Linked DNA regions of Homo sapiens. The protein of the gene in region 1 purifies or fractionates together with the protein of each later gene. This does not show direct contact. Each region holds a gene or a part of one and is shown in the gene's direction. Other genes may lie near its edges.

Region 1 (8,216 bases):
TCCTGTGGGGCCAAACTCCACTTGTCACATGGGAATTCAAAATGCAGGGTTCCTGCTGATAAGTGTGAGAGAGAGGGCACTCTGAGGCCAGCAGCCACCATCCCATGGTGCTTCTGTGGAGCTGAGAGGCTGGATTTTTGGTGGAGGTGTCTCTGGGTTGAGAGCCCAGGGCCTGTCCTGAGTCTGAGCTGCCCTTGGATGGGCTTGAGCTGGTGTCTTCAGACGAGCCCCACAGTCTGGTGCATTTCACATCTTACCCTTTTGCCTGCCTGCTTGGGCCTTTGGAGCTGTGCCCAGTGCCCCGGGCTACCTTCCCTGTCCCACGCCACCTGACACAAAGCCTCTCACATTGGGAAAGGCACGGAACAAAGAAATATGCCAAGCCTTGCACAACACTGACTCTTAAGACCTAAGGCAAGACATAAAGTTGTAGGCAGTGCCACCTACCAGCTCCAGACATTAACACAGCTTTCTTGTTTGCCAGTGAAATGCACCCAAAACCTCCACAGCTACTTTGCAGAGAGACTCTACTATGCCATGAAGGTAACTGTCCTGTCTTCTTCTTCCTGACGCTCACCCTACATAGCACCAAGTGCAAAGCCAAGGAGCTCAAAGCCACCACGATCCTCCACACGGGGGAGTTATCTTACCCAAACCTGTCGTGGATCAGAAAGGTTTTAGTTCTCGGAGGTGAAATTGAGTCTGGGAAAGGGACGCTGCATCTCCAGAGGTGAATAATTCCCTGAAACTAAAACCATTGCCCGTTTTCTCTGATTGATGGTTGCTGATATCCCCTGAAGTTAGTTCCACACCCGAAACCCAAGCCCTCTGGCCACTTCTGCCCAGGAAATGAGAGAGGGCATGCGATTCCCTTGGCCATGTGGCCCCAGCTGACATGAGACTGGTCAGGGATGAAGGTGAGCAGGAAGGCCCTGCCTGTGAAATTCCTGGCTGAGCTGATTGCTGCCATTGCTCTAGTAGGAAGTCTTGTTCCTGGAGCAGTGAGTATTTTGTGTCTAGAATCTGATGTGGCAAACCAAACATACTGCAGTTTGGAGCACTTGGCATCATAAAGGAAGAGTTCTGGGCAGTGGGTGAGAAGGAATTAAGGGAGTGGACACCCTAAGCCACCAAAGCTTCCCTCCTAATGCTTCCCTGGCTGAAGCACAGGCTCCTTCCCACATCTCCCTCCCTCTAAAAGCCCCAGAACCCAACCACACAGATCCGTCCATCACTCAGAGATGGACAGGAAAGGTGAGGCAGGATTGTTGATGGCTGCTGTCTTGCCCAGGGAGCAGGGACGCGTGATGGGACCCTGATAAGAAACATCGTTTCAAGGAGCGAGATTGACTTAAATCTTATCAAATGTCACTTCAAGAAGATGTACGGCAAGACCCTCAGCAGCATGATCATGGTAAGCAGGCATTCCCAATGCTGAGGCCAGCCTGAAACCCAGACATTCAGGGAAACCTGGAGGCTGTGGCCAACACTACGTGAGCCCCTCCCTTCCCAGTGGGCACCATGTGCTTGCATTCATGACCATGTGGTGTGTGCAGGGAACAGCAGAGGTCAGTGTGGCTGGATCCCAAGGGGAATGGGGGGCAGAGGGGAGATGCAGAGACCAGGGCACAGAGGCTCCCCTGTGTCCCACTCAGAAAGTTGGTTTCACATTTAAGTTATGGTTGCTCCTTGGAAAAGACACCAAATCCTTGCAGAAGAAGCCACCTCTGAAAAGTCAATGAGATGAACTAGTCCGGTAGGAATCGGGCCCACCGCTCAAATCCAGATTTAAGTAGTCCTGGCGGCCAACTTCTAAGGAGATAAGTCAGATGAGCGCCAATAGACTATCTAACCAGATTCCAATTAGCAAAAGTTCTGGAGCCTTCAAAACACAGACTGATTATCACGCTGCGATAATTGGGAGAAACAGCTCTTCTGGGGGTGTCTGCAAATTGAGGTCTTGATGATTTCATTAGCAGAAGTCACATTAGGACAAATGTATCCCCAAGTTTTCTTTGGCTACTAAGTCAAGTCTCTAGCTCTTCTGCAAATGTCGTTGTTAAGTGCACTTTTCAAGAAACACATAGCTGACAATAGGTGGAAAAGACATTTCTGTTTCCAGATGTTTCAAGATGGCAACATCTTGAAACAGGTGGGCAGGGGCAAGAGAGGATTGGAATTATTCTTGGTTTCACTTGAGGCTCCCCAGCCAATCTTGTCGGGAGACAGGAGGGCAAGGCACACACCAGCCTGGACTGTGCTGTCACCTGCAGACAGTCTGAGCTGATTGTCATTAACCCTTTTAACCACACATGGTAACTTACGGCATCAGAGAGATTTCTACAGATACATGAAGCCACCCTCTTCAAATTTTATCTAATGTTGTTACTTAAGAAAATTGAGTTAGAATCATGAATACATTGACCAAACGTTTCTTTTTAGTGTAGACCACAGATGTCATTAAAGCAAAAATGGTTTTCAACACTAATATGAGTTAAAAACTCCTGCATTGAAATTAAGAGGCAAATGTATAAACACTCCAAGTATAACTCATGTATTTGAAAAAGTAAACAAAATTAATGCTTTTCTTTCTAAAAACTATTCGAAAAATTGTCCTCAAAATAATAAAAATCACCAGGCGTAGTGGCCCACACCCGTAATCCCAGTGCTTTGGGAGGCCAACGCGGGAGGATCGCTTGAGCCCAGGAGTCCAAGGCTGCCGTGAGCTAGGACTGCATCACTGCACTCCAGCCTGGGTGACAGAGTGAGATCGTGTCTAGAAAGGAAAAAGTTAAAAAAAATTTCATTGTAGTTTGAAACCCGTAATGAGATTTCAGGCTCAAAACAGGCAAATTTTACTAAATGGTGAAAAGTAGACAATAACCATGAGACCTAAACTGGTCCAGAGTGTGGAAAGTGGGTCTAGCCCCAGTCTACCCCTTACTCACCATGCCGTTGTGAATGAATTCACTCCCCTCTCTTGGCCCCGCTGTCCTCAACTGCATGAAGAAGAATCTGGGTGATCTGACCTGGCCCATTTCCCAGCTCTGTATGCAGACCCCGGACTAGCCAGTCCCATCAGGACCTACCACTATCTAAGAAACAGGGCTCCTCAGTCATCGGACCACAAGGTCAGTCTCATCAGGAGACAAACACTGTGGACCCGATGTGAGCCAGATGCAGGGCAGACCAGCTCGCCTTCCTCCTGCTGTACCCTCACCACGTCTCAGCAAGATGCACAGCAGCACAGCATTGATCTCATTTCATAGATGAGTCCCACAGAGGTGAAGGGGCTTGCCTCGGCCACACCGTCAGGGTGCGATGGTCCAGGCTCCCTCCACCCCCGGCCCTGCCCCCAGGTGTGTGCTGATGCCTCACTCTCAGCCTTGATTCCCAAGCTGCCACAGCAGGTGTTGAATAATGATGCATCCTGTTGTGTAAATGAATGGCTGGGCACCCTGGCTCCCGAATAGAAGAACCCTGGGACAGCTGACCCCTTCCTTGTTTAGGAGTGGAACTGTCTCTGATTCATTTTCCACATCAATCCTGCATGTAGTTGGTAAGAGAATCAAAAGGAAATGTAAAGGAATAGCCTGAAATTAAAAACAAGGAAAGAGGGGTGATGGCACAACCCCTGCGGCTAGGAACCCTGGAGGGCCGGGCCAGGTGCAGGCCAGGGGCACACCTCTTAGTCATAATAACACAGCCGCCACTGCCGAGCCAGGCACAAGCAAACCCCTTCTCACGCTTATGCGCCTCCTGCCCACAGGAAGACACCAGCGGTGACTACAAGAACGCCCTGCTGAGCCTGGTGGGCAGCGACCCCTGAGGCACAGAAGAACAAGAGCAAAGACCATGAAGCCAGAGTCTCCAGGACTCCTCACTCAACCTCGGCCATGGACGCAGGTTGGGTGTGAGGGGGGTCCCAGCCTTTCGGTCTTCTATTTCCCTATTTCCAGTGCTTTCCAGCCGGGTTTCTGACCCAGAGGGTGGAACCGGCCTGGACTCCTCTTCCCAACTTCCTCCAGGTCATTTCCCAGTGTGAGCACAATGCCAACCTTAGTGTTTCTCCAGCCAGACAGATGCCTCAGCATGAAGGGCTTGGGGACTTGTGGATCATTCCTTCCTCCCTGCAGGAGCTTCCCAAGCTGGTCACAGAGTCTCCTGGGCACAGGTTATACAGACCCCAGCCCCATTCCCATCTACTGAAACAGGGTCTCCACAAGAGGGGCCAGGGAATATGGGTTTTTAACAAGCGTCTTACAAAACACTTCTCTATCATGCAGCCGGAGAGCTGGCTGGGAGCCCTTTTGTTTTAGAACACACATCCTTCAGCAGCTGAGAAACGAACACGAATCCATCCCAACCGAGATGCCATTAACATTCATCTAAAAATGTTAGGCTCTAAATGGACGAAAAATTCTCTCGCCATCTTAATAACAAAATAAACTACAAATTCCTGACCCAAGGACACTGTGTTATAAGAGGCGTGGGCTCCCCTGGTGGCTGACCAGGTCAGCTGCCCTGGCCTTGCACCCCTCTGCATGCAGCACAGAAGGGTGTGACCATGCCCTCAGCACCACTCTTGTCCCCACTGAACGGCAACTGAGACTGGGTACCTGGAGATTCTGAAGTGCCTTTGCTGTGGTTTTCAAAATAATAAAGATTTGTATTCAACTCAAAGTATCTTTGGATGTTTAGCAGGGACCAGTGTAGGACCAATTTAATTTGTCAGAAACAGAGCTTTGGGGAGCCACGAAGCCTGAGCGCCTCGTGGGCATCTCCCAGTGGGAACACTGGATGGGCTGTACCTGAGCACCTCATGGGCATCTCCCAGTGGGAACACTGGATGGGCTGCAGCCACCGCTGCCCTGGGGACAACTCTTGCAAATGAGGGTAGATTCTATTCACCTCCTGATGTGTAGGCTACATCCTTGTATCTCAGGGTTAGAGAGGGATTTAAAGTCAGCTGGTGCTGTTCCAACCTGTGGCCTGACTACCCCCTTGGCATCCACCCAGGGGTGGTCCTTGGTGTGCTTGGGGTGCACTTGGGTACTCAGGGTGTACTGGCGATACTCAGGGTGCAGTTGAGTACTCCGGGTGCACTTGGCTGCCTCCAAAGATGGGACTCACTGCGTCCTTTGACAGCCCAATCTTTTTCCAATGGATGTGACCAGCAAAGTTCTTGCTTTACCTGAACCAAAATCAGCCGCATCAAGCCCACACCTCTGCCATCTAGGGCCACAACACTTATTCCCTCCCAGTAACAACATTTTGGATATCTGAAGAAGGCCCACAAATTCTGCGATGACCTCTGTCAAAGCCCAGTGTCCCCAGTCCCTTCAGTGGTCCCTCCTGGAGCCTGTTTGGGGCCATCACCCCTGAACATGCTCCAGTTTGCAAACTTCCCCTCAAGTGGCCCTGAGGGGTAAGCGTGTGCCCAGGAACCAGCCTGATCAGGGAGATGGGAATAGCGTGGGCTCTGAATTCACTTGGACGGGAGGCAGATTCTGGCTCTGCCCTGCACCAGCTCCATGACTTTGACTGTGTTAGGCTATTCTTGTGTTGCCATAAAGCAATACCTGAGTCTGGGTAATTTATTTAAAAAGGGGGTTTAATTGGCTCACAGTCCTGCAGGCTATATAGGAAGCATGGTGCCGGCATCTGCTCAGCTTCTGGGGAGGCCTCTGGAGGGACCTTACAGTCATGGCAGAAGGTGAAGGGGGAGCCAACATCACGTAGCGAGAGTGGGAGCAAGAGAGGTGGGGGGAGGTGCCACACACTTTTAAACAGCCAGATCCTGTTAGAGCTCAAGATGGTGAGGACAGCATCAGGCGATGAGGGATCCGCCCCCTGACCTAAACACCTCCCACCAGGCCCCACCTCCAACACTGGGGATCACATTTCAACATGAAATTTGGAGGGGATATCCAAACTATATCAGTGACTGAGTCACTTACTCTCTGAGCCTCAGTTTCCTCACATTTCTATACAGGGTGGGCTCCCAGTTACAACTGCTGCCTTTCGAACCACCCCAGAGCCAGTAGCATAAAATCCTCATGTATAATGTTCACAGATTCTGTGGGTCAGCAGTTCTGGAGGGCACAGCAAGGTGCTTGTCTCTGACCCAACAAGTAAGGGGACTCAGTCTCAGTTGGGAAGACCTGAAGGTTGGGTGACTCTAGGGCAGAGGGGTGCAACCATCTGGATGCCTCTTCACTCACATGTTGGGCCCCTGGTGAGATGGCTGGAAGGCCAGGCTCAACTGGGACTGTCCCCTGCACTCCTACACGTAGCTTCTCCAGCATGGTGGCCTCAGGGTAGCAAGTGGTAGGGCTCCACCGTCTCCCAGTGGACAAGAAGGACACCACATTGCCTTCTGTGAGTTAGCGTCAGGAGTCACATGGCATCACTTCCCCGGTGCCCTATCAGTTGAAGACACCACAAGCCACCCCAGCTTCAAGGAAAGGGGACACAGACCCAATCTGTCAATGAGAAGAGTGTCAACGAATCTGGGGACTGTTTTTAAATCCACCACAAGTGGTGCTCAGAATATTTAACAACTGGTGCAGCACAACCCACTCACCTGAATGGCTGCTGTCTGCAGGGGTGGAGCAGAGCTCGAGTAGCGGCCCCTGCAGGGCCAGGCCTCAACCCTTAGTGCTGGATGGCAGGGTGTCTGTGGGGCCCCAGGGGAGGCTCCTGGGTGTTGGGGGTGCAGCAGCTATTCACCAACATGTCTTAGTCTTTTCAGACTGACATACAAAATACCATAAATAGGTGGCTTAAATAACAGACACTTATTTTGCACAGTTCTGGAGGCTGGGAAGTCTAAGATCAATTCAGTTCCTGGGGAGGGCCTCTTCCTGGCTTGCGGACGGCTGCCTTTTTGACACGTCCTCCCATGACCTTTCCTCTGTGCTTACACGTGTTCACGGGGGGAAGAGCTCTCTCTCTCTCTCCTGCTCTTTTCATAAGATCACTATACCATCATGAGGGCCCCGCCCTCATAACCTCATCTAACCCTAATTAGCTTCCAAAGGCTCATCTCCAAACACCAGCAAACTGGGGGTAAGGGCTTCAACAATACACAATCAGACTGTAACACAGCAAGGCAGGGGCCCTTCGGGAGTTTAACAACCTTTTAGTAGTTGTATCAGTGTGCGTCTCTTGGATCCCAGCCCTGGGTGAGAATTCTTATTCCTTTCTTTCAGTTCAAGTCCTGCTCTGTGTGCAGACTTGCTTTCAGTTCTGAGCCATTGCCTAGCTGCTTTCTGCCAAAACTCTTTAGAAAGGATTTAGAGGGGCCAGGCGTGGTGGCTCAGTCTGTAATCCCAGCACTTTGGGAGAACGAGGTGGGCAGATCACGAGGTCAGGAGATCGAGGCCATCCTGGCTAACACGGTGAAACCCTGTCTCTACTAAAAAATACAAAAAAATTAGCTGGGCATGGTGGCGGGCCCCTGCAGTCCCAGCTTACTCAGGAGGCTGAGCCAGGAGAATGGCGTGAACCCGGGAGGCAGAGATTGCAGTGAGCAGAGATAGTGCCACTGCACTCCAGCCTGGGTGATAGAGCGAGACTCTGTCAAAAAAAAAAAAGAAAAAGAAAAAAGAAAGAAAGGAAGGAAGGAAGGACTTAGAGGATCTCTCTGCCCTGCAAGCTCCCCTGACCACTGGTTCGATGGGTTCTTTTGCAGCCCACCCCAAAACAGGCCTCATGTGGCCAAACAGGAGCCTTGAGAAGAGCTGCAGCCAAGGAAATTTGGTCAAGTCCAAGTACATGCCCAGCAAGGGGATCTGCTTAAGCAGAGTCATGAAGTTGATCATCTCCCCTGATGGGGCAGAATGGACATCACCCCCACTGCCTCCCTGCCAGCAGAGAAATGTGGGACAGGCCTGGAAGCAAGAGGTCTCCTCAGATTAGAGGGGAAGCTCTCTCTGCCTGGGGTCAGAGCTGGAGCAGCATGGGTGTAAGGGGTCACGGCCCCATGTGCTGACTCCCTCCAGGTGACCCCCATGGCACCTGGGGAAGGAAGCAAAGGGGCCCTGGCCAGGACACCAGCAGCATCCACAGCACCTGCTAATCATTTTTGCTGGAGTAACCTTTTGGGCACTTCTGGTAAAGCAGACACGCTCCACAGGTGCTTTTGCAATTGCTCTTTGGAATTTGTTAAAAATACACCTATGTTTTTAAAGATAATTTGGAGTCTGCCTAGT
Region 2 (5,911 bases), on another chromosome or scaffold:
ATATAGTCAACATTGGCAGTTTTTGACAGTCTTTATGGAGACTAAACTTTGTTGGTAAATAAAAGTTGAAAAAAAAATGACTAGGTGCAGCGGCTCACATGTCTAATCCCAGCGCTTTGGGAGGCCGAGGTGGGAGAATCACTTGAGCTCAGGAGTTTGAGACCAGCCTGAGCAACATAGCAAGACTTCATCTCTACTAAAAAGAAAAGTTAAAAAATTAGCCAGGCGTGGTGGTGCACACCTGTAGTCCCAGCTACTCAGAAAGCTGAGGCAGGAGGATCACTTGAGTCTGGGAGGTTGAGGCTGCAGTGAGCCATGATCGCACCACTGCACTCCAGTCTGGGTGACAGAGTACGACTCTGTCTCCAAAAGACAAACCTTTCTTGGGAATGATGCCTTCCATTTATTCACATTTCAGCGGCCAGAGCCTGTCACGTGCACATGCCTGACATCAGCGGGGTAGGAGGGGCAGCAAATATTTGCAAGCAGGAGCACAGTCTGCCCAGCATGCCCTACAGGCTGGTGACAGGGGGAGCAGCAACAGTCTCAGGTGCTGGATCCTGAAATCTGACCCCGGGGCCCTGGGGTTATAGGTGCATGGGAGCCAGACAGACCCAGCTGCAAATTTTCAGCACCGCTGCTGATTGTCTCTGGGACGTCAGGTAAATCACGTGGCCTCTGTGAGCCTCAGTTTACGGTTCTGTCAAGTAGTCATCATGATAATTCCCATCTCACTGTTCTTGTGGGGCTTAAATGAGATGATTCCATGTTTCACCCTGAGGACAGTGCCTAGCACAAGTAAAAATAATGTTAGCTATTATCACTCTTCTTTTTTTTTTTTTTCCGAGACGGAGTTTCGCGCTTGTTGCCCAGACTGGAGTGCAATGGTGTGATCTCGGCTCACTGCAACCTCTGCCTCCCGGGTTCAAGCGAGTCTCCTCATTATTACTATTCTTAACACTTACCTGTTCCTGGCTACCATTTCTCCATGGCGGGCCTGACTAGGTGAGATTTTCGGGACAGATAATGGGAGGTACAGATAGTCAGCCAGCCGGGTAGAGAAGGCAAACAAACCCCTTGGTGTGTGTGGGAGGGGGTCCAGAAGAGGGCAGACACAAGACCAAGTGGGCAAAGGGAGAAAAGGCCAGTTCTCGCATCAGCTATTCTAATGAGCTCTAAAACACGAGCCATCGTCTCTCAGTTGAGGAGGAGCGGGAGGTTGGAGAAACCTCAGTTGTGGATTCTTCCTTGGTCAGATATTGACCAAGCATCTGCAGTGCGAGGCGCTGCTCAACAGAGAACCTCAGCCCCGCCTTCCTGAGCTGCAGAGTGCAGGGAGCAGAACCTCAGCCCCACCTTCCTGAGCTGCAGAGTGCAGGGAGCAGGCAGCACTCACTGGGCAGCTACGAGGGTGGGAGCAGGCTTGGGGCAAGTGCCCAGGGTGGGGCCTGCCACTGGCCTGGTCACGGGGCATCCCTCGGCAAGCAGGTACTTCTGCACACCTCCTGTGAGGCAGGCATGGGGCATCCGCTATGATGGAGACAGACTGTGTCCCAGCCTGCACAGCCCTCCCTTTGGTCCAGAGGGGAAGACACACCAGACGGGAATCACATACTGGTGTGTTTAGTTCTAACTGTAAGATGTGCCAGGAAGATGGGCTGGATATTCTCCATTGGCCCTTTCAAATCCCTTCTCTTCACCTTCTCTTTATGCATGGGAGGCTGACCTTATCACCTGGTGGCTGTGCCACCTCGATTCGTTGGTCTTCTGGCATTCAGGTGGGTCCAGCCAGTGGGAGGCACCAGTAGGTGATAGGAGAGTGAGTGCAGAGAGCTCATGAGTGTGTGTGACCCTGTTCCCCAGTGGTGCATGGCTCTGGTGGCAGCTGGGCTCCCTACCTAACTCCCTCCCTGCTGAGTGACTCCAGAATTCAGCTCCCTCCAGGGTGAGTTGTACCTTCCCCGACCCTTGCCCTTCAGGCTCCTGCATTTCCCTGAAACTCTGCCCATACCTCTGTGAATTGTCCCTTCCCAAAGCCCTCCTCCAGGAATCCCTGCAGCGCGCCACTGTCTCCTGCTGGGGCACTGACTGGTGCAGGAGGGAAGTGCAGGGTTCTGAGGGAGGCAGAGCCAGGGTCCTGACCTGTGTCGGGGGGCAGTTTGCTTTCTCTGCCTTATGAGGGAAGTCCTCCCCAGCCTTCAAAGTCTCCCCTCCAGCATCACCTCCTCCAGGAAGCCCTCCCTGCCTCTCTAGCCAAGGTCAGATTAGGCTTCTATTGCTCTTTCCTTCAGAGCACTGATCTCAGTTTGCACCTTCACATTCAGGAGTATGTCTAATCTGATTACCTATCACACTCCTGAATATCACGCTCCTGAACATGAAGGTGTAAGCTTTGCCTGAAGTCCCAGAGACACTCAGCAGCGGTGCAGAATTTGCACCTGGGTCTGTCTGGTTCCCACTCACCTATCACCACAGGGCTGCGGGTCAGAGCTCAGGATCCAGCACTTGAGACTGTCACTGCTCACCCTGTCACCAACTTGCTGGAGAGAGCCTGGGTCAGCTTCTGTTCACCACTGACTCTCCTGGGCCTGGCCAGAGTAGCTGTTCAAAAGGAATTCTTGACTGGAAATAATGAGCATCCGAAAAGGCATTTCAAGAAACAAATACCACCGCCCCCAAATGGAAGGCTATAATGTTCTTATTGTTAGCAAGAAAAATAACATGGCTATTATAGCTAAATTAACTAAATGGCCTGCCACCTGAGAATCTATTGTTTATGGCAAGACAGGGCCTAGGGACATTACATTACAGGCAAATTCTTTTTCCTTTTTCTTCATAGGTTTGCTCTGGAATTAGTCACAGAAAAGGGCCATACATTTGCCGAAGAGCTTCAGAAAGTGAGTAACACCATCTCACCCAAGCTGGGAATCTTCAGCCCCGGTGGCCATCACGGGACTCAGCATCCAGCCACCAGTTACTCTTTGTGTCACCTGGGGCTAGTTACTCTCCCTCTGTGAGCTCCATTTCTTCATCTGTAAAATGCGGACAGGCCAGGTATGGTGGCTCACACCTGCAATCTCAGCTACTTGGGAGACTGAGGCAGGAAGATCACTTGAGGCCAGGAGCCTAGGTAACATAATAAGACCCTGACTCTACAAAATATTTGAAAATTAGCCAGGCATAGTGGTGAATGCCTGTAGCCTTAGCTACTCAGGAAACTGAGGTAGGAGGATCTCTTGAGCCCAGGAGGTCAAGGCTGCAGTGAGCTGTGATCATGCCACTGCACTCCTGCCTGGGCAAGAGATTGAGACCCTGTCTCAGGCCGAGCACCATGGTTCAATTAAGCCTGTAATCCCAGCACTTTGGGCGGCCAAGGTGGGAGCATCACTTCAAGCCAGGAGTTCAAGACCAGCCTGGGCAACTTAGGGAGACCCTGTCTCTACAAAAAAAAAAAAAAATTAAAAATTAGCCAAGTATGGTGGCATGCACCCATAGTCCCAGCAACTTACAAGGCTGAGGTGGGAGAATCGCTTGAGTCTTACAGGTTGAGGCTGCAGTGAGATGTGATTACACCACTGCACTGTAGCCTGGGCAACAGAGTGGGATCCTGTCTTTAAAAAAAAAAAAAAAAAAAAACCTCTGTCTCCAAAACAAACAACTGGAGACATATAATCTTCCTTCACAGGCGAGTGGGGAGGATTGTACTAAATGAGGGAATTTAAAATGCAACGGTTCTCAACCCAGGGCCATTCTGCCCCTCAGGGCCCGCTGAGCAATATCTGGAGACATTTTTGGTTGCCACATCTGGGTGTTGGGGGTGTTGCTGGCATGTAAATATCCTGCAATGCAGGGGACAGCCCCCGTCAACGAAGAATGACCCGGCCTTGAATGGCAATAGCACCGAGGCTGAGAAAGCCGGTGTGAAGTGCCTCGCTCATGCCCGATGCAGAGGGAACCTGGGAAGCCTAGCTGCAGTGAGCCCTCAGCCCGTGGGACTCATGCGTCACAGTGTCACTGTTCTGTTCCCTAAGAAGGAGGGGGCCTCTGACCCACGCAGAGAACTTCAAGCACGGAGACAGGGTCACCACCCCAGAATGCCCAGGGTGCCGCACTTTCCACCTCCACATGGACCCAGGTCCCCAGAAACCGCTCCCCGCAGGGTCAGCCCTTCCCACTTCCGTTCTGAAGCCCAGGCTGGAGCCTGCTCAGGCCCCTGGGAACAGACGGAGGGTAGTAGGTGGGGCTGCCACAGGCTGTGGCTGCAGGAGGAAGCCTCAGCTGCCAGAACATTCTGTGTGGTGGAGGAAGGCTTTCAACCTCCTGAGGAGCCGCGGTAGCAGCGGTCATTTCTGTCTGCTGTACGCGTTGGGTCGCAGCTGTCACGTCACCTCCTCAAGGGCCTTCCCTGGCCACCTAATCTCCAGCTGGGTTAGGCACTGCTCCTGGATTTCCACATCCTCTAACCACAGGCATCACAAGGGGTGTTAACCTGTTCACCCATCCACCTCCCACCCAGCCTTGGCACTGTGAGGGCGGGGACAGTGTCTGGTTCACCTGGGAGCCCCGCCTGGCCTGGTAGCCGCTCGCAGGGCCTGTGGATGAGGCCGGGCAGCAATGCCACTGCTTTCCTCATATCACCCATTTCACCCTCACAGACACCCGTGAGGTGGAAGTTAATGTCCACAGCTTATAGGGAGCCAAACTGAGCCTCAGAAAGGCTGACTTGCCCAGCCCCCACAGCCAGGCATCAGTAGAGCTGGAATCTGATTCCCAAACTGGTGCCATTTCTCCCCAGCCCTTGGGGTACACGCTGCACGTGGCCAACCAAGTGGGTAGTATTATCACTCCCGCTTTGACTGTGAAAGTGCAGAGACCCCAAGCAGGGAAGCAGCTTGCCCAAGGTCTGCTGGTCAGAAGCCCTGGGAAGGTTCCAGCCCAGTGCTGGATGGGCAGCCTCTGCTCTCACACACCATGGCCTGCTTCTTGAATGCTGTCACAGTGGCCATCTTAGGAGAGGTCAGAAGTCGCAGACCTTCACCCTCCTGGTAGCCCACCATCCAGCTTGAGTGGACCCTGGCTGGGCACAAAGTCAGAGGTGGTACTTGTGGTCTTCACATGCATGAGAGCTGTTGGACATTTGTCATGCAGGGGCCTGGAGTCCTGCAGCAGACCTTAACAGACCACTTCTGTTCCAAGCAAACCCACTCCCCACCTGGACAGAGCACAGGCCTCACCCAGCCAGGCTTCCTGCTCCCAGAATCCCCACACGCCTCGGCTGACTACATTCTCCAAGCTCCTTGTCCTTTAGAGTTTAGAAAGCACTGTCACATTTGACCTCTTGGCCCAACTGTTACAGGTTAGAAAACCAAAGCTGTCAAATGTTGAGAAAAGAAGAAAACCTCACAGGGCCTAGGTGCACAGGAGACGTGGACAGAGCCCAGACGGTTCCTCTTGACTGTCCCTGGGTGTGTGATGCGTGTCATCTGCTTAACCCAGCTGCTGCCCCCATGGGAGCCTTTTCCTCCCTCAGACTGCAAAAGAGCCACACCAGGTCCCCCTCAGCAGGGCTGGGTGTCCAACGAAGATGTTGTGCTGAAAGTTCAGAGTTTGCTTTCAAATGTCAGCCAGTTCAAGGTCTGATAGCCTGTATTAGTCTGTTCTCGCACTGCTATAAAGAACTACCTGAGACCGGATAATTTATAAAGAAAAGAAGTTTAATCTGCACATGGTTTTGTGGGCTGTACAGGCTTCTGCTTCTGGGGAGGCCTCAGGAAACCTACAGTCATGGCGGAAGGCAAAGGGGAAGCAGGTACATCTTCACATGGCTGATAGGAGAGAGAGAGTGTGAAGAGGGAGGTGCTACACACTTTCAAACAACCACATCTCATGAGAACTCTATCACAAGACAGCA
Region 3 (8,404 bases), on another chromosome or scaffold:
TGTTTAAGAATTTATTTTCCAGTTAGGTGGGTGATTTGACAAAGGGAGATTACAAAACAGGATTTTTTTTTACTTTGCTGCTTTACTTTGCTGCCACCGCCGTTGCTGTCATCCAGGTTTTCATAGTGTCACTGTGAAGGCTAAAAGTGATCATCCTCAGTACCTCATTGTACAAGTAAAGTAGTCATGTTAAGTCATTGACTTTTGGAACATACCACATTGAGATATTAGCAGTACCAAATTCTGCTGTCTTTCAGTTCATTCCTTTCTGTTGTGTGTGCCCATTAGGCAGCTGCTTCTCTCTCTCTTCGCCTGGATGAAGGACTGTTCCCCAAAACCAAATGAAATACTTTTCCAACCTAGAGGCCTTGTAGTAGATTTAGTGTGCTTGTATGTAAAATTTAACGCTCTCCTGTGGTTTTAAGATACTGAACTCTGAAAATATCTTAGATACTTATTTTTTATTTGGTATAGCCAGGAAAAGAAACTGGTTAATAGCAAACAAGAAATATAGTTTCTCTGGTTTTGAAATAACTTCAAGCCTTTTCTGTTGTGATTTATAGTCTACTCATCGGTGTTTTCTAACAGAAGTGTATTTCTTTACATAGGTTACTCACTATAAACAATATCCACCCAACACAAGCAAAGTTTATTCCTACTTTGAATGCCGTGAAAAGAAGACAGAAAACTCCAAATTAAGGAAGGTGAAATATGAGGAAACAGTATTTTATGGGTTGCAGTACATTCTTAATAAGTACTTAAAAGGTATTACTTTTCCTAGTATATTTTAAACACTGCTTATTACTCTTAACTCCTTTAGGAGTTCTTTTAGAATTTTTAACAAATCTGTTAATTTGGATGCATTAAATCATATAATTTGGTGTGTGTTTGATGTTCTAAGTATGAGAAAAGTTTTCTGAAATAAAAGGTTTTTTTTTTTTTTTGGAAACCGAGTTTCGCTCTTGTTGGCCAGGCTGGAGTGCAATGGCATGATCTCAACTCAGCGCAACCTCCGCCTCCTGGTTTCAGGCAATTCTCCTGCCTCTGCCTCCCGAGTAGATGGGATTACAGGCATGCACCACCACACCCAACTAATTTTGTGTTTTTAGTGAAGACGGGCTTTCTCCATGTTGGTCAGGCTGGTCTTGAACTCTCGACCTCAGGTGATCCACCTGTCTCGGCCCACCAAAGTGCTGTGATTACAGGCGTGAGCCACCACTCCTGGCCGAACTAAAAGTTTTGAAATAAGTTTAGAAAAGTCATTAATTTTTGGAGGCTAATCTTGTTTGTTATACTTTAGTCATTAATTCAAAGTAAAGGAGTTGTTAATGAACTGGAAACTCCTTTTGAATTATGGTAGCAATCAGAATATTTTTATATTAGCCAGTTTTACCTTGAAGACCTATTTTTAAAAACTACCTGTGTCTCTGGACTTAGTTGCAAATGCATATTAAAACAAAAATCCCCCAATTTCTGTGCTTTCTTATTTGAAAGGCCATTTCTAGGGGGAAAACAGTTCCCAAACACATTATACATGTTGGAAAAGTTTATCTCTAACCTTTTGAATTAAACAATTTCAGAATTGAAAACAGTAAGGTGAATTTTAGGCCAATAACTCTTTTCTATAATCTTGACTCTTTTAAGATTAGGCAGTTCAGATAGTCTTATACTACTGAAAACCTAGCTAGATATCAGAAGTAATTATTAGTGGCAAGAATACCAAAGTTAATACCAAAGTTTTTTTGTTTTGTTTTGTTTTTAGACAGGGTCTCACTCAGTCACCCAGGCTGGAGTGCAGTGGTGCAATCTTGGCTCACTGCAACCTCTGCCTCCCAGGCTCCAGAGATCCTTCCTGCTCAGCCTCTCAAGTAACTGGGACCACAGGCTCGCACCACCATGCCTGGCTACTTTTTTATAGTGACAGGGTCTCACCATGTTGACCAGGCTGGTCTCAAACTTTTGAGCTCTCAAGCGACCCGCCCGCCTTGGCCTCCCAAAATGCTGGGATTACAGACATGAGCCACCACGCCTGGCCCCAAGATACTTTAAACGAGTTTACTAGTTATCTTGTATTAAGTTACCAGCAACTGATAGCACACTTTAATTTAGTCATACAACTTAAGAACTTTGTAAAATATTACTCATTTTTAATTATAACTAAAATGTATTGATTACCTATTCTAGGCCAGCATTATTGTAAGTGGTTCGTATGTCTTAACTCATTTTGTCCTCACAAACATCATATAAGTGGGTACTCGACTTTTATCCTCATTTACGGATAAGAAAAGTTAATTAAAAGTGTGTTGTTTGGGGGGCAGACATTTAGTAATTGTGGAAATTACTGACTTACCAACCCTAAAGATGCCACATTCTTTACGAACGAAGTGAGACGTTTCATTTGGATGTAAGAAGCTTTTGAGTCATCTCAAAGTTGAAAAGTACCAAAATTAATCGAGAGAAAAAAATTAAGTTAATATCATTTTTAAAAGCTGTGCAAGTAATAATTTTTTCTATTACACATCTGCTTTTACAATAAATAAACATTTATACTTTGAGTTATTAAAAGTACAAATTCCTTTTCTGACTCTGCTGTTGACTCTGGGTGAGCATTTAACCTCTTAGTTATATTTTTAATCCATAGAATGGGTGAAATAGCCAAAGATATTAAGTCTGTGACAGTTCAGCAACTCACAGAATGCACCTTTAGAAATGTAAACAGGACATGTATATTCTTCTAGGTAAAGTAGTAACCAAAGAGAAAATCCAGGAAGCCAAAGATGTCTACAAAGAACATTTCCAAGATGATGTCTTTAATGAAAAGGGATGGAACTACATTCTTGAGGTAAAAGATGGTTTCATCTTTTGATCTGTTTTGGTTTTTCTTTCAGTTCAAAACTTCTTGCAAAGGAATTTGTTTTTGTTTTGTGTTTTTTGAGAGAAAGTGTCACTCTGTCACCCAGGCTGGAGTGCAGTGGCACAATCTCGGCTCACTGCAACCTCTGCTTCCTAGGTTCAAGCTATTCTCCTGCCTTAGCCTCCTTAGTAGCTGGGACTACAGGCACGCACCACCACACCTGGCTAATTTTTGTATTTTTAGTAGAGATGGGGTTTTACTGTGTTGGCCAGGCTGGTCTCAAACTCCTGACTTCAAGTGATCTGCCCACCTTGGCCTCCCAAAGTGCTGGGATTACAGGTGTGAGCCACCATCCCCGGCCAGAATTTGAATAAGAGATTAGAGTATCATTACAGTTCTTTTTTGTTTGTGATCTGAATATAATGGCTATTTCATAGCCATTATATATCCTTTTGAAAAGTTATATTATAGCCAATATATCCTTTTGAAAAGTTAAGGTTGACATTTTATCCCTCTCCCCGCATCCCCCATGTTAAATCATTAGCATATAGAATCTACAGCAAGTCTAAGTAATTAATAAAAATGAATTATAACTTAAATAACATTTTTGAGAAAGATAATTCATTCTTGAAAATACACTATAGGTAGGAAAGGGCATGGTTATTTGGCAATTTCAAAATGTAGGTCTGTTTTCTTGACTGAAAATAGATGCTGTGAGTCTATCACTACACATAATTCTGGGAAGTTTCTCACTGTATAGTGAGAATGGCTTGGTGCTGATCCACAAAGTTGATTTTTAGTCTTGATTGTATTATATTTATATCTAGTATGTTTGAATTCATTGCCTAAATATTAAGGCACTCAAAGACATGGTAATAGAATTATAAGAGTTAAATATCCCGTGGTGGTTTCCTTTTATTACAATGATCAGTTGGGAATGGAATCTGTTGGCGTATCTTGATGTTGAGTGTTACTTTTAAGTCTCACAAACGAAAGTTTCTTACATTGAAAAGACTGTCAAACACAGAATAATTAGAAATACTTTAACTTTCATGCCTATATGACAATACTGAGCTATACTATTTGGTACTTATGGGTCTTGAAAAAGTCAGGTAAGTACTCTGTGCTGCACTTTTCCTGTATCTTAAATAAGGTCAATAGAATCTGTGAGCTATCACCTGTACTTGCTCCATTTCTCTTCTGTGAGGTTTGTTGTAAGGATAAATACAGTAATAAGTTAGGTACTATGCTTATTACTATACTGTCCAGTGGCCAGGGCAATAAGTCGTTTGATTATATGATCAGAAAATCTTGGGGAACTAAAGGTTCTCTAGAGATAATCTGGTCTAACCCCATTTTACAAACAGAATCTGAGACCGAGAGATGGCAAGTGACTAGTCCAGGGTCTCCCCGCTGCTTTTGAGTCCAAACTAGGACCTGTAGGGCAATGTTCTTTTTGCTATACACTGTGCCTCCAGTGCTTGTATTAAACAGATTTTTCTTGTATTTAATTACCTTGTCCCAAATCACATAAATAAATTATCAGGATTTCTGAAACAGCTTGCCTTCCTAGTGAAAAGTTAGGCACAGCTCTTAGCTTTAAAAGGGAGGTACAGTGTCACATAACAAATAACCTTCAGCCTAATTTTGGAGGCAATTATTACATTAAGAGGAAGTCAGTTAAGTCATACTCGAGTGTTAATTGCCAAGATTCTGTGTTTGGCCTGTCTCATAGTTTCAGGTCCACGACCAGAATAGAGGGAACCTATTTCGGTTCTTCTGCAGGGATTTCCCTAGCTCTCCTTCTCTCTCGTTTTGTTTTCTTTTGTTCTTTAATAGCAATCCTTTATCTTTCAATCTGCAGCCTTTATTTTGTGAAAATAACGAATTTAGAATAAAGGTAGTGTTCTTGGAATACTTTTAGAATATGTTGGAATAAAGTCATCCTTTCTCATTTTCTGAAAAAGCAGGGAAGAAGCAACAGTTTGGTTTTGATGAGTTTGGAATTTTCTGCCACTTGTAGTGATAAATGTTCTTAGCAGAAGCACGTGGCAGCATTAAACTTAAAAATTAATATCAGTACGTATGTTAATAATTTTAACTAGTTTTATTTTAGAAGGATAAGGATATTCTGACTAGATTACAGTAACATCTACAATTGCAATTTCTATGACAGTAAATTTAGCTTCTATAAAACGTAAAGAACCTTTAGTAAAACAGCAGGGAATTGAGTATCATCTGTTGAATAAATAAATTTATCATTTTATCCTGCCAGAAGTATGATGGGCATCTTCCAATAGAAATAAAAGCTGTTCCTGAGGGCTTTGTCATTCCCAGAGGAAATGTTCTCTTCACGGTGGAAAACACAGATCCAGAGTGTTACTGGCTTACAAATTGGATTGAGGTAAATTGTTTTTTTAATTCTTATTTAACATTAATTGAATAAAGACCATTGAACTGAGATTACAGTTTAGAATTTGTTACTAATAAAGCTATATAATCTCCTATAATTTACTTAACCTTTCCAGGCTTCAATTTCCTCATCTATAAAATGACAGACTAAATAATCTTTAAGGTTTCTTCTAGTAGAATAGAATGTTCTGAGATTTTGTTTAAATCAAATTATTGAGAGTGATTGTTTTTAAAACCTAGTTGGCTTTCATCTAATTCATTGCCATTTTAAGTGTGTATTATTTTAGAGCAAACTTAGAAAAACAGCACATTTCTAGTAACTTACGACATTCGATGAATGATAAATGTTCAAGTTAGACTAAAGGAACTTTATTCCAACTTCTAGTAACTACTTTCTTCATTTTTCTCTCATCAGTTTAGGTCTTAGGATCTACCATCTGTTACTTTTCAGTTTCTCATCTAAATAAAACAAGATCTGCTGTTCATATTGTTTAATTTCTCAGGAAGGGTACATTTTGGGCTTTGGGTTTATACTGCGAGCCTTTTTTTTGTTTTTCTTGTATGTATACCTAAGTAGTCATATGTTTTCACATGGTCAGAGTTTTGATAATAATACTCTACCTAGCTTCTGAACAGTTTAATAATAGATTTAATCCGTGAGAGGAAATACCCTCGAAAGTTACTATAGAAATAACACCTTACTATCTGGTGGCATTTACTTAGTTCTTAGAACTGACTAATTAGTTTATCGGTTAAAGTAATTTGCTATTATATTGTAAAATAGTACATTTGAGGCTCACTTATAAAAATTGGAAAACATCGAAATATAAGAGGTCCAAGAGGGTGTTTGAAACACATTTTGCTAAGTTGACAGGAAATTAATAGACTTTTTATGGGCCATTAACTAATAATACACTCAAAAAAAAGGTACAGTTAAATAAAGGTTTTAAATAGTCTATACCGTATACTAAAACTAAATTAATATTTAGGACTGAAATAACATATTGATTAAGTACCAGCTATGTACCCAAAAAATGCTGGGCACAGAAGTTAGAGTAAGATGTTTTACTTAAAGGGCCTTTGAGTGAGAGTTGGCAATTCATTCTGAACTAACCACTAATATCATTAAGAATTAGTGCTGAGTTGGTAGCAGGAAATAGGTAATTCTGTCTAAAGGAATCATGAAATGGAAAATAAATAAGCTTTTAATAAGGAGAAGGAAGAGCTGAAGAAATGGCACAGTGTTCTTAGAATGACAGATAGTCCTATGGGGACTGCAGCATAAAAGTGAAAAATGTATAAGATAAACCTTTAGATGGTAAGCAAGGCAAGATTCTCAAATTCTGTATGAATCAGCTCCACCTCCGCCCCATGGACAGTAGATGACCGTTAATGGCTTTTAAGGAAAGATGCAACCTGGAAAAAAAGAAAAAAAACTTGTTTTAGAATGGTAACCACTGGCAATATGAAGAATAATTAGACTAAAGAAGAGAGGTAGGATAATCATGGGCATTGGCAGTGGAATTGAAAGAGTAATTTCAGAAGCAGAATGGTCAGATGTTGGAGGTGATTGGTTATAGAGTTTAAGAATTGTACTGATTTTCTATTGTGTAACAAACTACCCCAAAACTTAATGGCTTAAAGCAACTATTATTTCTCCTGATTCTGTGGTTGACTGGATGGTCGTCTGCTGCTCTTGCTTAGACTTAGGCATCTGCATTTAGCTGAGGGTTCAGCCAGGGCTGGACATCCTTTAATGGCCTCATTCCCATGTCTGGGGCCTCAGGTCAGATAGCTGGGACTACCGGGTCTCACTCCAGAAGAGGTTTCTTCAGAGCATGGTAGTCTTGGGGTTCTAAGAGAATGAGAGTAGAAGCTGCAAAACCTCTTGAAACTGGGGCTTGGGAGTCACACATGACTTTCTCCACATTCTGTTCGTCAAAAGCGAATCATAAGGACAGCACAGACTCAAGGGATAAGAAAGGAGATTCCATCTCTTGATGAGAAGAGCTGCAAAGGCCATATTTAATCAGTCACAGGAGTCTAATGCTACAAAGTAGTTTTTTAAAAAGATGACTAGATTGGCAAGTTCAAGGTTAATCTTTTTATTTGTTTTATTTATATATCACTTAGCTGGTATTCAGTAAAAGCTTGCTTTGTAAAATTTAGTTAATATCTTTTTGGTTCAGCACAGACATTGCATCATCTTAGCAGCTCTTTTTCAAACAGATTTGAAGCTGCTTCAAATAACAATCTGGTTTATAAAATGAAAATAGAAAATTATGATCTTAGAATGAAGAAGTGAATTTCTAAGCCATGATAATTATTACGGTTGCTGTGATTAGACAGACTTTTCTGTGGAGCTTCCTGACAACCAAGAAAAAAGGGGAAATCAAGGAACTGTTCTTATCAGAAAGTAGGAACCCAGCAATTCTTTCATTTTCTCATTGGGAACTTAATAGTCACTGAATTACAAAGTAGACAGTGACCTTGATTATACAACATATGCGGAAGTGTTTCCTGTAACTTACGTGAGTATTTTATCAAATACTTATATATTTGATAAAAGCTAAGTACATAAAGCATAACTCAGTAGATAGAATTCTCTAGTAGTAAGCTAAAGTGCTTCAAGTATTAGTTGTCATATTAATCCAAGAGAAAATTAGATCTGAGACTACCTCGAGGAGTAAACGAACAACTTCTTTAAACCAATACTAGTCAAAATGCAGTCCACGGACCAATGCTGGTTCATGCCCTATTTGATCCAAGTCCACATTAAGTACAGAAATGAAGAGTAAGCATTTAGAAACTTGGGGCAATTTGACATTGCCTCAACATCCAAGTTTCAGTGTCCTTTATAAACTATTGATCCATGACAGATCATGAAACTTTCTAAAAATTGATCCTTTTATCACATAGTCTTTCAAAATATTATTTGCTTCTTTGAAGCTTTGGATAGAAACTTGATAATGTGAAGTTCTCTGCTATGTGGACCTGGTGTGCTTATCTTCTTTGTTGCTGATTTGAGAGCTGAGCTATGTACTATATCTGGAATGCACACAGCAGGCATCCTGCTGCGCAGTTCTGTGTCTAGTTAATAGTATGGAAGTTCAGGACATACCTCCAAAAAAAAAAAAA
Region 4 (2,595 bases), about 36 Mb from region 1:
TAATCCTAGCACTTTAAGAGGCCAAGGCCGTGGGGTCACTTGTGCCCAGGAGTTCAAGACCAGCCTGCGTAATATAGTGAGACCCCATCTTGGAAAAAAAAAAAAAAATCCTGTCCTACTGGAGTTTACATGCTACAAAGGACATACACTATAAACAAACGTGAAATATATAGGGTGTTAAATGGAGAGAAGTGCAAAAGATTTAAAATGTAGCCAGACGGGAGTCGCATCAGGGTTCGTTTTACACTTGGAGCAGGGCGGCCATGGAAGACCTCAGTGATAGGGGATGCAGGACCAGAGGCCTGCAATGAGGGCGTGTGCCAGGATGACACCCAGGGAAAAGTCACCCCAGGCAGAGGGACCAGCGAGTCCGAGGACCCTGAGGTGACGGTGCATGGGCGTATTTGAGGAACATCAGGGATGCCACCAGGATTGTGAGAGCCTGAGTGACGGGTGGGGAAGGGAAGGGCCCCTGCCTGTGTGTCCTTGTGCACCTGGGGACCCCTCTTTTCCATTTTAAGTTTGACTTTAGAGGAGCCAGGCTTGGTAGCGTGCAACAGAATTGGTTGGTGCAGCACGCAGTGGTTGTGAAGCAGAGGACACGGTGAGGAGGGAGGGAGCTGGGCTCCCCCGCTCTTCACCAGCCCTGGAACCTCAGGGGAGGGTAGTAGGAGGGGAGAGGGCATCCTTTCCTTGCCACATCTTACCGATTGGTGAGTTAAAACCATGCTGGGCTCTACGTCTGGTCCCCAAAGACATTGTCTGTAAATCCTTGCCTCTCCGGGAGGCTGGGTCTGCTCTTTCCAGTCAGGCCAAGGTGACAGCCCCGTGACTGCTTATTGTGGGAGGTGGCCCCAGTGGGTTCTGAGAGGTACTGGAACCCCCACTCCCCGCCACCCCACCCCCATACTGCAGTGTCTGTGGGGCATCCCATCTGATGTGGCTGCCGTCCTGTGCTTGGCCCTCAAAAGAGGTAGACGAAATCCCCAGCCGTGGCAGGGCTCAGTGACCAGATCTTTGCAGGAGCAAGAGAACACGGGACAGCCACTGCTCCCCTGGGCCTGGTGTGGTTTCTTCGCTCTTGGAAAGATCCGCTCTCCTCCCGGGCAGGAGTTAGGGCACTGAAGACGTCAGGGCTGGCGGATGACGTGGTATTTGAGGAAGCAGGTCATTGAGCCGAGGCGGGACTCAGGTGGCGGGGGCGGGTCACAGGAGAGCACCTCAGTGACATCCCGTGTCTCCCCGTAGGTGGCCTTGGAGATGCTCTTTACTGGTGAGCCCATTTCTGCCCAGGAGGCCCTGCTCCACGGGCTGCTTAGCAAGGTGGTGCCAGAGGCGGAGCTGCAGGAGGAGACCATGCGGATCGCTAGGAAGATCGCATCGCTGAGCCGTCCGGTGGTGTCCCTGGGCAAAGCCACCTTCTACAAGCAGCTGCCCCAGGACCTGGGGACGGCTTACTACCTCACCTCCCAGGCCATGGTGGACAACCTGGCCCTGCGGGACGGGCAGGAGGGCATCACGGCCTTCCTCCAGAAGAGAAAACCTGTCTGGTCACACGAGCCAGTGTGAGTGGAGGCAGAGGAGTGAGGCCCACGGGCAGCGCCCAGGAGCCCACCTTCCCCTCTGGCCCAGCCACCACTGCCTCTCAGCTTCAACAGGTGACAGGCTGCTTTCGTGACTTGATATTGGTGTCATAGCATTTGGCCTACATTAAAAGCCACAATTTCATGGGGAAAGGACAAAATGGAGAGTGACTGAGGTGCTGACCTCAGTGCAAGGCTGGTGAACCCTGCAGCGGGCCAGCTATGGTGGGAAGCCTGGCATTTGGGGTGCTCCTTGCAACGTCTTAAGCAAGCGACCCCCCGACATAGCAAAAGGTGGCAACCCATGGAGGCAGAAAGAAGGACGCCAGCCTGACCCTTATCTGAAACGTCCTAAGCAGAGTTAATCCTGGCTGCTCAGGAGAGGCGACACATTTCAAATCTCCACGAGATATTCTCCACACAGAAAATCTTCTTGATTCTATAGAGACTTAATCATGCCTATGGCTTTGAATAATCTTATGTGATTTAAATAAATTAAATCTTTATAGAGACTGGTATGTTTTATCTCCCCAGCTACACTGCAAGCTGTCTAAGAAAAGAAAAAAAAATCAATTAACTGTTTTTGTATGCTCACGCTGATGGCATAGAGTAGGTGCCTCCTATTTCTATAACAAATGCCCTTGTTATCCACGTTTTTGTGAAACCCGGACCCCAGGCTCAACCTGAGGATGAAAACACTGGGGAGAGGAGGTGGGGTGCACACATCCTACGCATTAAGAGCACCTCCTCCCGGCTGGGCGCTGGCTCCCGCCTATAATCCCAGCACTCTGGGAGGCCGAGGCAGGTGGATTACCTGAGGTCAGGAGTTCAAGACCAGCCTGACCAACATGGTGAAACCCGTCCCTACTAAAAATACAAAAATTAGCCAGGTGCAGTGGCGTGTGCCTGTAATCCCAGCTACTTGGGAGGCTGAGGCAGGAGAATCGCTTGAACTCAGAGGCGGAGGTTGCAGTGAGCCGAGATGGTGCCACTGCACTCTAGCTCTGGGGCG

Evidence for each region.
Region 2: the proteins of ANXA8 (region 1) and MMAB fractionate together in Homo sapiens (co-fractionation; one large-scale study listed by BioGRID). This does not show direct contact.
Region 3: the proteins of ANXA8 (region 1) and NAMPT fractionate together in Homo sapiens (co-fractionation; one large-scale study listed by BioGRID). This does not show direct contact.
Region 4: the proteins of ANXA8 (region 1) and ECHDC3 fractionate together in Homo sapiens (co-fractionation; one large-scale study listed by BioGRID). This does not show direct contact.

The regions. Positions count from the first base shown.
Region 1 is NC_000010.11:47,464,460-47,472,675, reverse strand, and holds the end of ANXA8 (annexin A8), read left to right. Parts: exon of another isoform or gene 1-477; intron 478-484; coding exon 485-543; intron 544-1,291; coding exon 1,292-1,414; intron 1,415-3,769; coding exon 3,770-3,829; 3' UTR 3,830-4,683; downstream 4,684-8,216. UniProt on the Homo sapiens protein: This protein is an anticoagulant protein that acts as an indirect inhibitor of the thromboplastin-specific complex, which is involved in the blood coagulation cascade.
Region 2 is NC_000012.12:109,562,105-109,568,015, reverse strand, and holds part of MMAB (corrinoid adenosyltransferase MMAB precursor), read left to right. Parts: intron 1-439; exon of another isoform or gene 440-662; intron 663-848; exon of another isoform or gene 849-988; coding exon of another isoform or gene 989-1,005; intron 1,006-2,839; coding exon 2,840-2,897; intron 2,898-5,911. UniProt on the Homo sapiens protein: Converts cob(I)alamin to adenosylcobalamin (adenosylcob(III)alamin), a coenzyme for methylmalonyl-CoA mutase, therefore participates in the final step of the vitamin B12 conversion.
Region 3 is NC_000007.14:106,269,384-106,277,787, reverse strand, and holds part of NAMPT (nicotinamide phosphoribosyltransferase precursor), read left to right. Parts: intron 1-608; coding exon 609-765; intron 766-2,738; coding exon 2,739-2,842; intron 2,843-5,129; coding exon 5,130-5,258; intron 5,259-8,404.
Region 4 is NC_000010.11:11,761,976-11,764,570, forward strand, and holds the end of ECHDC3 (enoyl-CoA hydratase domain-containing protein 3, mitochondrial precursor), read left to right. Parts: intron 1-1,248; coding exon 1,249-1,569; 3' UTR 1,570-2,095; downstream 2,096-2,595. UniProt on the Homo sapiens protein: May play a role in fatty acid biosynthesis and insulin sensitivity.